Linked DNA regions of Homo sapiens. The protein of the gene in region 3 interacts with the protein of the main gene of each other region in a pairwise test. Each region holds a gene or a part of one and is shown on either strand. Other genes may lie near its edges. The genes, in order: ERMP1, MFSD6 and TMEM237.

The links.
Region 1: the proteins of TMEM237 (region 3) and ERMP1 interact in binary tests that used the Homo sapiens proteins (3 or more experiments, as listed by UniProt).
Region 2: the proteins of TMEM237 (region 3) and MFSD6 interact in binary tests that used the Homo sapiens proteins (3 or more experiments, as listed by UniProt).

What each region holds. Positions count from the first base shown.
Region 1 is NC_000009.12:5,808,962-5,812,618, forward strand, and holds part of ERMP1 (endoplasmic reticulum metallopeptidase 1), read right to left. Parts: intron 3,257-3,657; coding exon 3,164-3,256; intron 2,363-3,163; coding exon 2,150-2,362; intron 1,271-2,149; coding exon 1,050-1,270; intron 1-1,049. UniProt on the Homo sapiens protein: Within the ovary, required for the organization of somatic cells and oocytes into discrete follicular structures.
Region 2 is NC_000002.12:190,411,241-190,414,897, forward strand, and holds part of MFSD6 (major facilitator superfamily domain-containing protein 6), read left to right. Parts: intron 1-3,657.
Region 3 is NC_000002.12:201,623,095-201,626,660, reverse strand, and holds part of TMEM237 (transmembrane protein 237), read left to right. Parts: intron 1-513; coding exon 514-635; intron 636-2,338; coding exon 2,339-2,406; 3' UTR 2,407-3,566. UniProt on the Homo sapiens protein: Component of the transition zone in primary cilia. Required for ciliogenesis.

The DNA.
Region 1 (3,657 bases), on a different chromosome or scaffold from region 3:
CGCCTGCCCAGCCTCCCAAAGTGTTGGGATTACAGGCATGAGCCACAGCACCCAGCCCATAGCCCTAATTTCTTTTTTTTGAGACAGAATCTCGCTGTCGCCCCAGCTGGAGTGCAGTGGCTCAATCTCAGCTCACTGCAGGCTCCGCCTCCCGGGTTCACGCCATTCTCCTGCCTCAGCCTCCCGAGCAGCTGGGACTACAGGCGCCGCCACCTCGCCCGGCTAATTTTTTGTATTTTTAGTAGAGACGGGGTTTCACCGTGTTAGCCAGGATGGTCTCGATCTCCTGACCTTGTGATCCGCCCACCTCAGCCTCCCAAAGTGCTGGGATTACAGGCGTGAGCCACCGCGCCCGGCCAGCCCTAATTTCTAATTTTATTTTTGCCAAACAAATTTATGCATTTGAAACCATAATAATATAACAATATTCTCAGTATAAATCATTTGGAACCCTATTTCCCTTCCCTCTGTTTTCCTTAGCAATGTGTCTTTTAACTCCAATGACATACATGCATGCAGAATCTGAATCAACAATATACAGTTAAAAAGAAAAAACAGTGAGGGAAAAACTGAAAAAACTTTAAGTACAACATTCTTTTAGGCAACAAATACTTGCTGTGTGTTAATGCTGTGTGTCAGACACTACCTAAGCACAGAGGATACAGAAATAAATAAAACAATCCCTATCCTCAAGGAGCTTACACTCCAATGGAGAACAGATATTCAAATAACATAAATAAGTGGGTGAGCCCAGGACATATTTACAAACACTGCAGCAAATTCAGTAGAAGGCTGTGCTAACAAGCCTTCCAGTCACCACCACCCTAACACTGTTAACAGCCCGGCTTTATAACCTCATTTGAATTTTGTGACATTACCCTCAGAATAAGAAATCTTTCAGAAAATTAACACAGTGTAGGTGCGTTTTCCATAACCATGCTGAACAATTTTTTAGCACTCAAAAGGCCAAATACAATGAATCACACTTAAGTTCATCTTCAGTCCCTGGAGGCAACAGAAAGAAATCAACAAATATACCAAACACTTACCATGTAATAAAATCTTTTCGCAAGAGTATGTATAAGTATTATTTTGGCTACAGTTGCAGTTCCATACAGACAAACGGAGACATAGAAGTGGTTATACCATGAGAGAGACTGTCCAATAAGAGAGATGAACACTGCTATAATGAGAACGGTAACAAGGCTAGTGAACCAGCTGATCAAAGTGATGCCAAGTCCACACAAGAAGTCCTTCTTGTAGTTACCAGCTAATGAAGAGAAAACAAAAAGTTGAAATCACCATCTTCATCAAATCAGTTATATAACCAGTCAGTAGAGCTAAATGGGCAAACATTAAAACAAAAAACTCCCCACTGTACTTGAAAAGTATGAAAATGTCCTAGTGTTGAGATTGGCCAAACACAAGAACAAGGGAGGTATCAAATAATAATATTCAGGTAACATTTATTAAGAGTCTCTAGATACTAAACACTCAAAAAGATAAATCTTCTAGGAATAGTTCAGGTACATTCCTTATGAAGGAAGAGGATAGTCTTAATCTTCTTCACTTTTGGTATGCTTTGTGTATCAAAATATTAGCAAGAATGGAAGGCAAAGTTCCATATAAAATGTTGTTAAAATAAGGTAACATAAGAAGATAAGGAGTGTGGGGAAAATAAGCGTTGATAAAGAATTATTTAAACTGCTGCTAAATATTTTATCTCGTAACAGCACACAACAACTTAGACTCTGAAACATTTCAAGCAGAAATATTTCAAATAAAAGAAACAGTTTAACCACAAGCAGTTCATTCATACTTCGTGACACTGGTCCATACTAGCTATTGGTCTGTAGTGTGGACTTTTTAATGGGACTTTTCATTAGAAGTCAATCTGTACAAACCATTTTTCAATAGTTTCTATGTGGTACTTTTATGGAGTGCCTAAATATATAAAAATTGACTGCTTCACCAAGACTAAAAGTAAAATAAGCATATTAATTTAATATTTAAAAATTTCTTACAATATAAAGCAAACATTGTCTTAAGATTTTTAGCTTTCTGGGAAGATATAAACAAACTGACTGAAAAACTTCAAGCACATTCTACAGCAATGCCAGTATTTGTAGTTTTAGAGGAAAATACTTACTCTTATGTTTGGGCTGCAAAAATTTTTTGCCCAGGTACAAAACAACACCCATTACCACCATGTAGTTTATGATTGAGCCAATACGAGAGGGGTAGGCAATGACAAACAGGCCCAGCACATCAAAGAAGACCATGTTTCCATGTCGATACTTAGAAGCAGCAGCCAGCATATCAGATGTAGCTAGATGCTTAAGAACTGCTAAAATGTTGTCACCTATTAGTAAAAACAAAAAAAAAAAGAAAGAAAAGGAAAAAGATAAAAAGGCTGAATAAACTATTTGTGATTTACACATACCACTATTTAAAGCAGAAATAAACCATATACTGTTTGAATGAAGAAATGGTTAGAAAGAATGTGAACAGAAATCGCTTTCTACCATCCTACTGCTCTCCCTCACTTTTTTTACTAAATTTCTCAAATAAGGTCCATCCCCTGCCTTTCTCCATTTCCTCTCCACTCAGACGCTCAGCCAACTGGCCTGTATCTTTTCCCTTCTATTAGAACTATTCTCTGTGATCAATTGTACCTTCATTGTTGACAAATCCAATGGCTGTTTCTTGGTACCCATTCATTTAATAATATATATTAACTGTACTAGACACTCTTCTAGATATCAGAAATTTAGTGGTGAACCAAGAGACAAAGGCCTTTCACGAAGCTCAGAGATGCTGAACAAGCTGTCACACATGTGTTAAAAATTGAGGAGAGCTAGCAGAGTTCCACAGGAAAACATCATGGGAGACTAACAGAGCTACATTCTTACCACTCAGCAATCCTCCCAACCCTGGGCCAACTCCTTTTTCATTTCCTCACAATGAATATTCCTGACCTTAATTGCTACACTAGACTACAAGACTAAAATTCAAGATCTCATCTCTCCAACTCCAAAGCCCTAGCTCATTCACATTGCATACTGCCTCTCTAATGCACAGGCCACAGAATATTTACAAGTTTATGTATCATCCCTAACATTCCATCTTAGTGTATATCAAAAGTCTAAATTGGAATACCAACCTGCTCTCTGAATGGAATCTGTTAGAATTCTGTCCGCTGTGTCATACTTGGTGTGATAAATGTATCCATTCTCAATAAAAGCTAAGTCTATTCCTAAAACATATATATAGAAAAAAAAAAGTCATTTTGCTTTAAAGATCAACCTTGCTTTCGACCTATTTCTTTAATAAATTCCTAAAAGACAAAATGTCAAAGCAGTGGCACGATTGCTTTGTCACATTTACAAACGACTGATATAAATTCTCTTCCAAATTCTTACACAGTCTATAGCTTTGGTACATAATTCGATACATAATGATTGAAGAAGTATATTACTCCACAGGTAGGCATTACAAGTCACACAGCAAGGATAGGAATATTGAGTTTGGGAGGTCATGAAAATTTTGCCACCTACATTCTTGCCAGGCCAGAGCCAAATTTTAACTTCAAATAAGTTGTACATACAAGTTGCCAAGGGAGTTGGCAAACCAAGACAACAACGAAAGACCCCTGAA
Region 2 (3,657 bases), about 11 Mb from region 3:
CCTCTGCCTCCTGGGTTCAAACTATTCTCCTGCCTCAGCCTCCCGAGTAGCTGGGATTACAGGCACATGCCACCAGGCTCAGCTAATTTTTATTTTTTTAGTAGAGACGGGGTTTCATCATGTTGGCCAGGATGGTCTCCATCTCCTGACCTCATGATTCCCCTGCCTAGGCCTCCCAAAGTGCTGGGATTACAGGCATGAGCCACTGCGCCCAGCCGACAGTGGCTATCTTCAGGAAGTGAGACAAGATGGAGAAAAGAGGATGTTTTTGCTTTTTACCTTATAAAGTTATGTTTGGGCTTAAAATTTTGTTTTTGGAACAAGCATGTGTTCTCTTATTATATAAACTAAAAAGGAAAACAAAAGAAGACTAGAATTAATTGATTTTATAACAATCCAAAGTAAGATAAAATTGAATGTGCCTAAACTCTAATGTTAGGGAAGTGAAATGAGACTCAGGAGATCAAAGTGAAAGGTGGCATACTGAGAATTGGGGGGCAAAGGGTAAAGAGTCTCAGGTGACTGGCTTTTACTTTTTCTAATAGTAACTGTAGCATATTCTACAACTCCTCAGTTTTCCTCCTCAATAAGAATGCTTTGGAGCATACACAATTTATCTGCTTGATTAGGGGTGATAAGAATTTCTTTCTTCCTGGTCTTGCTAGTGGTGGCTGTCTTTGGAAGCATGATTGTTCTGTACAGAACAATCTGGTAGAAGGTAGGAGTTGGAGAAACCAATTTACCTGCTGTGTCATCTCATGAAATTATGGCATTCTGGATGACTTTAGGTATAATTATTTTTAGTAACAATTTAGGAGAAGCAAGTTATCATAAAGTTAAACTAATCTGATGCATATGTACTTGTTAAATACAGTCCCATAGTTCTATCCAATTCTATGTAAAATTAACTAAAACCACTGCTTAGAATCCTTAAAAATTAATACATTTCCAGACTTAGAAATCCAGAGCCATAATACATTCAGACTTTTCAGAATCAAGAAAACACATGCTTAAACTTGGTTAATTATCATTGTGGTAGTAGGTAATCTTGAGAAAGAGGGAATTGTAAAAGTATTTTACAGAAGAGATATTCTCACAATTTTAGGTATTATCCAACATTTCATTTTGGGTTCTAATTATGTTTTAGGCAGAAGGAAATCTCCATCTTTTAATTTAGGAAACTTTGTTCAATAGGTTATCTTTAAAGGCAGAAATCAAGTGCAAAGTCCTACCCTACTACAAGGCCAGTTTGGGTAAAATTTCTTCCTCAAACTCAACTAACATGGCATTTCCTTGGGCATAGCATTTTTGATTCCTGGGAAAAGCAAACAAACACATCTGATGTCAATTCTGTGTGGGGCAATGAAAACACCTTAATGCCTCCACCAAGAACATTTCCTTTGAGTTTATAATTCCTCCATGTTTAATTATCCAACATTAGCTGTCTGTTCCCATTTACTCTACTGGCATTTTGGGGGTGAGAGGGGCTTGTGTCAGCCTGATTTGTTTTCCTAAATTCTGAATGATACGTTATCCAGTACTTAGCCCCACTGCTGGATTCAGTAACATTTGCTTTGTAGCTGTTTTTGATTGCCCACATTTGGATGATATTTATTTACTGTTTTTGCAAAATGGCATTGTCTCAAGTTGGCTGGGCAACTTTTGGAATCTACCAGTCATTTGTTCAGACAAGTGATGTTTGGTGCAGGGGCCAAAACAGAAAAGCCAACCAAATAATAAATAATTACAAACGTGGAACACCTAAACCTTGAGCCTATATGTTAATATGTGTCTGCTATAGTTACTGGTTGCTATGTTATGGCTTTAAAAAGAGCACACCCTCCCAAACCCCCACCTCTACCTCAGCACCAACAAAAACTACATCCCAATGTTGTATGTATTCAAAGTAGCCTCTCCCTGCCTTGATCCATTATGATGTAAATCTAGCTGAGCCACGTGTTGATGATTATGTTGAAGAGATGTGAGTGAGAGTTCTGTATTACCTTGTGACCTGGTGGTCCTGCTGCATTTTAGGATGGGAGGGGCGGGGTAGAATGGGGGAGAATAGGGCAAAGATGGGAAGAAATTCAGACCCTTAAAAAACCATGTTCAAGAGATGTGGAAAAAAATTGAATTAAGGGGGGCAGAGATGTCTTTCTTTGACATTTGTTGTGGGGCATGTTTTAGAATGGGAGACCAATTCAGGAAACATTTGGCAAGTACAAAACAGGAAAGGCCAGCTCTGAATGACTCTGAGGAAATGTTTGGAAGCATTTTGATCTGAGACCAAGAGTGGGATGGGGGAAAGACAGGGAAAGACAGGGACACTATGAATCAGCAGTGGGCAGAGTGAGCTCTGGTGTGTGGCTTTGAGGAGGATAAAAAGGAGGAACTGGTGCTGCCTGAACAAGCCCGATGTGTGGGTTAACCGTGCCAAAGGAAAGTGAGTGGCGAGCCTGGACTGGTAGTTAGCAGTCTGTGTTGGTTATGTAGAGAGACCTTGTTCCACAGGCAGGTGCACTCCACTCTGCACGGGGCCTGCTCTCTCTGAGCTCCAATAAACCAATGTACCATGAGCCCTGCTATACTGTGGGGTGAAGAGGAGACATGGCAGTCAGGGCCCAGGATTCCAGGAGAAACTGAGCACTGGAGCAGTGGCAGGAGTGGGTCCCTGTGAGTCACGCTGGGAATTCTTAACTGTTCAGGGCACTTTTAGGGACAAAGTTAAGGTAGAACATACTTGGCCTCAAGGTACTTGGCTCAAGGTAGAGCAAAGGAGGAAGGCACCACACCAAACACATAAAGCAGAATCATACAAAGTGACATGCATGCTGCCTATGACTTTTAAGAAGTACTGTGTTCCTGGGGCCTGTCTGGGGGGTTGGGTGGCAGGGGGAGGGAGAGCATCAGGATAAATAACTAATGCATGTGGGGCTTAATACCTAGATGATGGGTTGGTAGGTGCTGCAAACCACCATGGCACACGTTTGCCTATGTAACAAACCCACATGTCCTGCACATGTGTCCTGGAACATAAAATAAAGAAGCGCTGTGTTCTTGATTAACGTGCTCCAATCCAGCAAAGGCAAGCTTCTTTAGCTATTATGGAGTGCCTTTCTTAATTCTATTTCAAAATCATGCCTGTGCAATTGTGTTTAACTAATGAACAAATATGCCCCAATTCACATTTATAAGGGAGTTTAAATAAAAGACTTTATTATGATTCTTTTGAATGAGTAAACATGACACATTTCAATTTTATTTTCTGTGTAATGAGGCTCCCTGTAAAAGGTGTGCATATCTTTTAAGAGTGTCTCAAAGTCCTTGTGACAGTCCCTTTCAATTCCGTATACTGGGAAGCACAAGGCATTAGATGAATGATCAGACCTCAATTTAATAACTCTATAATTTTTCAGGAACTCCGGGAACAAGGACATCCTAATTGTCACTCAAATGTTTTATATTTAAAATAATTCCTTTTTAAATATGTATTTTTAAAGTGATAAATAATGATTTTTTAAAAATCCAGCCAAGTATAAGAAAAAAATTAAATAAGTCCTAATTTTACTACTCAGAGATAATCCCTGATAACACTTTGGTGTCATTTTTATCGAGTCTTTTTCTAAAATACATTTTATTTGAGCTACATAGATTTAC
Region 3 (3,566 bases):
GAAAGAGCGGAACAGGGAGAGCCAACATCTGCAGATCAGCGGCCAGCCATGAAGCTGACAGGATGGCTGAGATTATAGTTCATAAAACTTAGAGAAGCAGTCTTTTTTTTTTTTTTTTTTTTTTTTCCCCAAATGCTGCACGTAGCATCCAAAAGTAGTCTTTTTTGAGAGAGTGGCTAGGGACATTAGGTAAAGAGAAAGCAAAGATACTTTATTGAGGATTAATGTCATGGTAGTTGGAAGGAAAACTTTTAGAGAATTTTCTTGGGAATACTAACTTTGCATTTATATGAATGTATACAGCAGATCTGTTCAGAGTTTAAATAACCTTTGAACCCTTGTTCTCATTATATATGTGGTATATTTTACAGGGAAATTATATTTTCTTTCACACTTTACTTGTTATTTCTCTAGGAGAGGACTGCTGTTTTTTCTTAAAGTTCATAAAATAGATATATTTGTGTATATGAACCAAACTGAAGGCACTTCTAATGAGTGTTTCTACATTTTTAGGGAAGCAGGAATTGAGGAACAGATTCTCCAGCCATGGATTGTGGTGAATCTCGTGGTGGCTCTTCTGGTTGGATTATCTTGGCTATTTTTGTCTTATAGGCCAGGCATGGATCTTAGTGAAGGTATTAAAGAAAAAAAATAGCATAAGAATATCCTGAAATCTTCTATAATGGTTTTATAAACCTCCTTTTAATAGGTATAGCTTATAATATTCCAATAACAAAGACACATTTAAATTAAAATGATACAAGAAGAGAGAAAATAAAGTGGTGTAACAGAATGCCAAGAGAAGCAGGGAGGAGTGTCTAGGAGGGCTTGAGTCTGGAACTACTTAATGAGGGGCTTCTGTGGCCCTTGTGCATTTTCAGGAGGTATTTCTTCTCTTGGAACCCTTCAAGTAATGTAGAAAAAGTCTTTGCTCTTCACTTCTCTTAGTCTCCTGCTGATGAATTTTGAAATAAATCATGCTTTGTCTACATAGCCTCTCTGTCGGACACATACTCAAGTCAATTATTCTTCCTTCTCTATTTGGTACAAATTCTTAACCGTTCATTGGCTAACAGTGTTTAGTACTCTTTTAACATGCTCAGTGTGCAGTGATTCACTCATCTCTAGTCCCCAGACCCCTTTTGGAACACCTGAAGAAGAATCATCATATTAGCAAACTGCTAACCTTTTATGCTGCTTGAGGAACTGTTTAGTATTTGTATTGTAAATTGTGTTTCCTTGGCCAATGTTCAACAGTTTTACCCTTGAATATCTTTTTTTTTTTATTTTTTATTTTTGGAGATGGAGTCTCGCTGTGTCGCCCAGGTCAGAGTACAGTGGCTCGATCTGGGCTCACTGCAAGCTCCGCCTCCCGGGTTCATGTCATTCTCCTGCCTCAGCCTCCCGAGTAGCTGGAACTACAGGCGCCCGCCACCACGCCCGGCTAATTTTTTGTATTTTTAATAGAGACAGGGTTTCACCATGTTAGCCAGGACAGTCTCAATCTCCTGACCTCGTGATCCGCCCGCCTCGGCCTCCCAAAGTGCTGGGATTAAGGCGTGAGCCACCGCGCCTGGCCAAACATCTTTTATGGATATTTTCTGGGTCTTGGTTATTATTTTATTTTTTATTTGACCAACTATTTACAACCTATCTGCCTCAGAAGCCTTAGCATGCAGAATTTCGCCAACATCTATGCTAAGTAATAGTTTAAATGTAGAAAATGTCAGCTAATAACATTCTACATTGTGGCTGGGATCAAAACTGCATCTGGATTGTGCAGTATTCAGTCTAAATATTTCCAGAATCCTGTTCTTTTAAGGCCATGTTAGTCATACAACATGTGGATTTAAAAAGTAAGTATAAAATGAGATGATAATACCTGGCTTCTTGCGTTGTTTTGATGATTAAATGGGATGACCCATTTAAAATATCCTGGCACACATCTCTTGTTAGTTCCAAGTCCTTCCTCTGTATCTGTCCCCTATGTTTCAGATGATCTGATCACTGTAGAATTAGACATTTTAGCTGTTTAATGATCTTTGATTCTCTAAGTGACTTAAATTTCCAGGTAGGATTGTGTATATTGTCTCTATTACATTTTACTTTTAAGGGGTCTATAATTTAAAATTTAAATATTTTAAAATGTAAAACTTGTACATTTGTTATCAGCTTACCTTTTAAATCATATTTCACTGTCAAGAAATCTTACTTGAGGGCTTTCTATTAGTATATATTATGTCAATTTTTTAAAGGACTATTTATAAATAAGCTATACAACTCTGTTGGAGGTACTGGGAAACAATTTTAAGTATGATCTGTTCATTTTCTTCTCCAGAGTTAATGTTCTCCTCAGAGGTGGAAGAATATCCTGATAAAGAGAAAGAAATCAAAGCCTCTTCATAATACCAGCTCACCTTTGGAGGAATAATGACCCAGTATTTGTCCCATTTTTGTTTTTAAATGTATTTTTATAAGATGTATACATGTGTATTTGTAATAGATTTTTTGATTATATAATACTGAAACATCTCTCAATATTATGAAAAATGTTAAAATTGTGTTTGCTGTTTATGTCTAAACATTAATTTGTCTAGCATTATCATCTTAATGACAAAGGGAATAATGAACTAGAAACCAGCAAGTGAAAGTGTTTATTTCCTATTTTCTCAAAACAGTTGTATTTATAACTATTACCTTAAAAAGCACTGGTTTAGAAAAAGCCATAACTTAAATAGTGTTATAAAATATATATCAGGTTTAAACATAAATTTAGCGAATATGGTAGAAGGGAAAAAAGCCTTCATTTTTGACCTCCCCTTACTGAATAAATTGAAATATGAAGTTTGTCTTTTCTGAAACTGGCTTAGTGATTGAGTATCATGTAATAATTATAATATAATTTAGCTTGAAAGATGCTCTACATTATGACCAATAAAAAGGGAATGTATGTTTTGTTTGAAAAATTATATAACCTAAATTTTTTACCTAGAAGTAACTAAAAAGTTGCTTCTCATTATAATCTGTACTAGTGGTTCTCATATCTGGTTGTACATCAGGATCATAGAGGGAGATTTTAAAAATCTATGTAGCAAAAGAGGCTGAGCAGGGCAAGGCTCAGGGGAATAAAGGAGAGACCTGTGAGCTTGTGGGCTCCCAGTTGACATCTGCAGTACCCTTTCCTCTGTCCCTTTTTTCTGAGTGACAAGAAATAGGAGTAGAAATTCACCATCTCTGTTCTCCAGCTCTTTGTCAGAGAGGTTTCTGGTTTTCCAGGAAATCCCCCTCTTGAGATGGGTCCTGCACTGGGAAAGATCTCTTCAGAACTATATCCAATGGTACCTCAGCTGTTGTATATGAGACCCTAAAGCTCAAGTTGAGGAGAAGACTAGCTATGGGAAAAAATGTTTCAAAGGCTGTTGAGCACATCAATAAAACTATTGAGCCTGCCCTGATTAGCAAGCACCTGAATGTTATAGAACAGAAGAGGATTGACAAATTGATGATAGAGACAGTTGACCCTGACAATAGGTCTAAATTTGGAGTGAACATTATACTGGGAATCT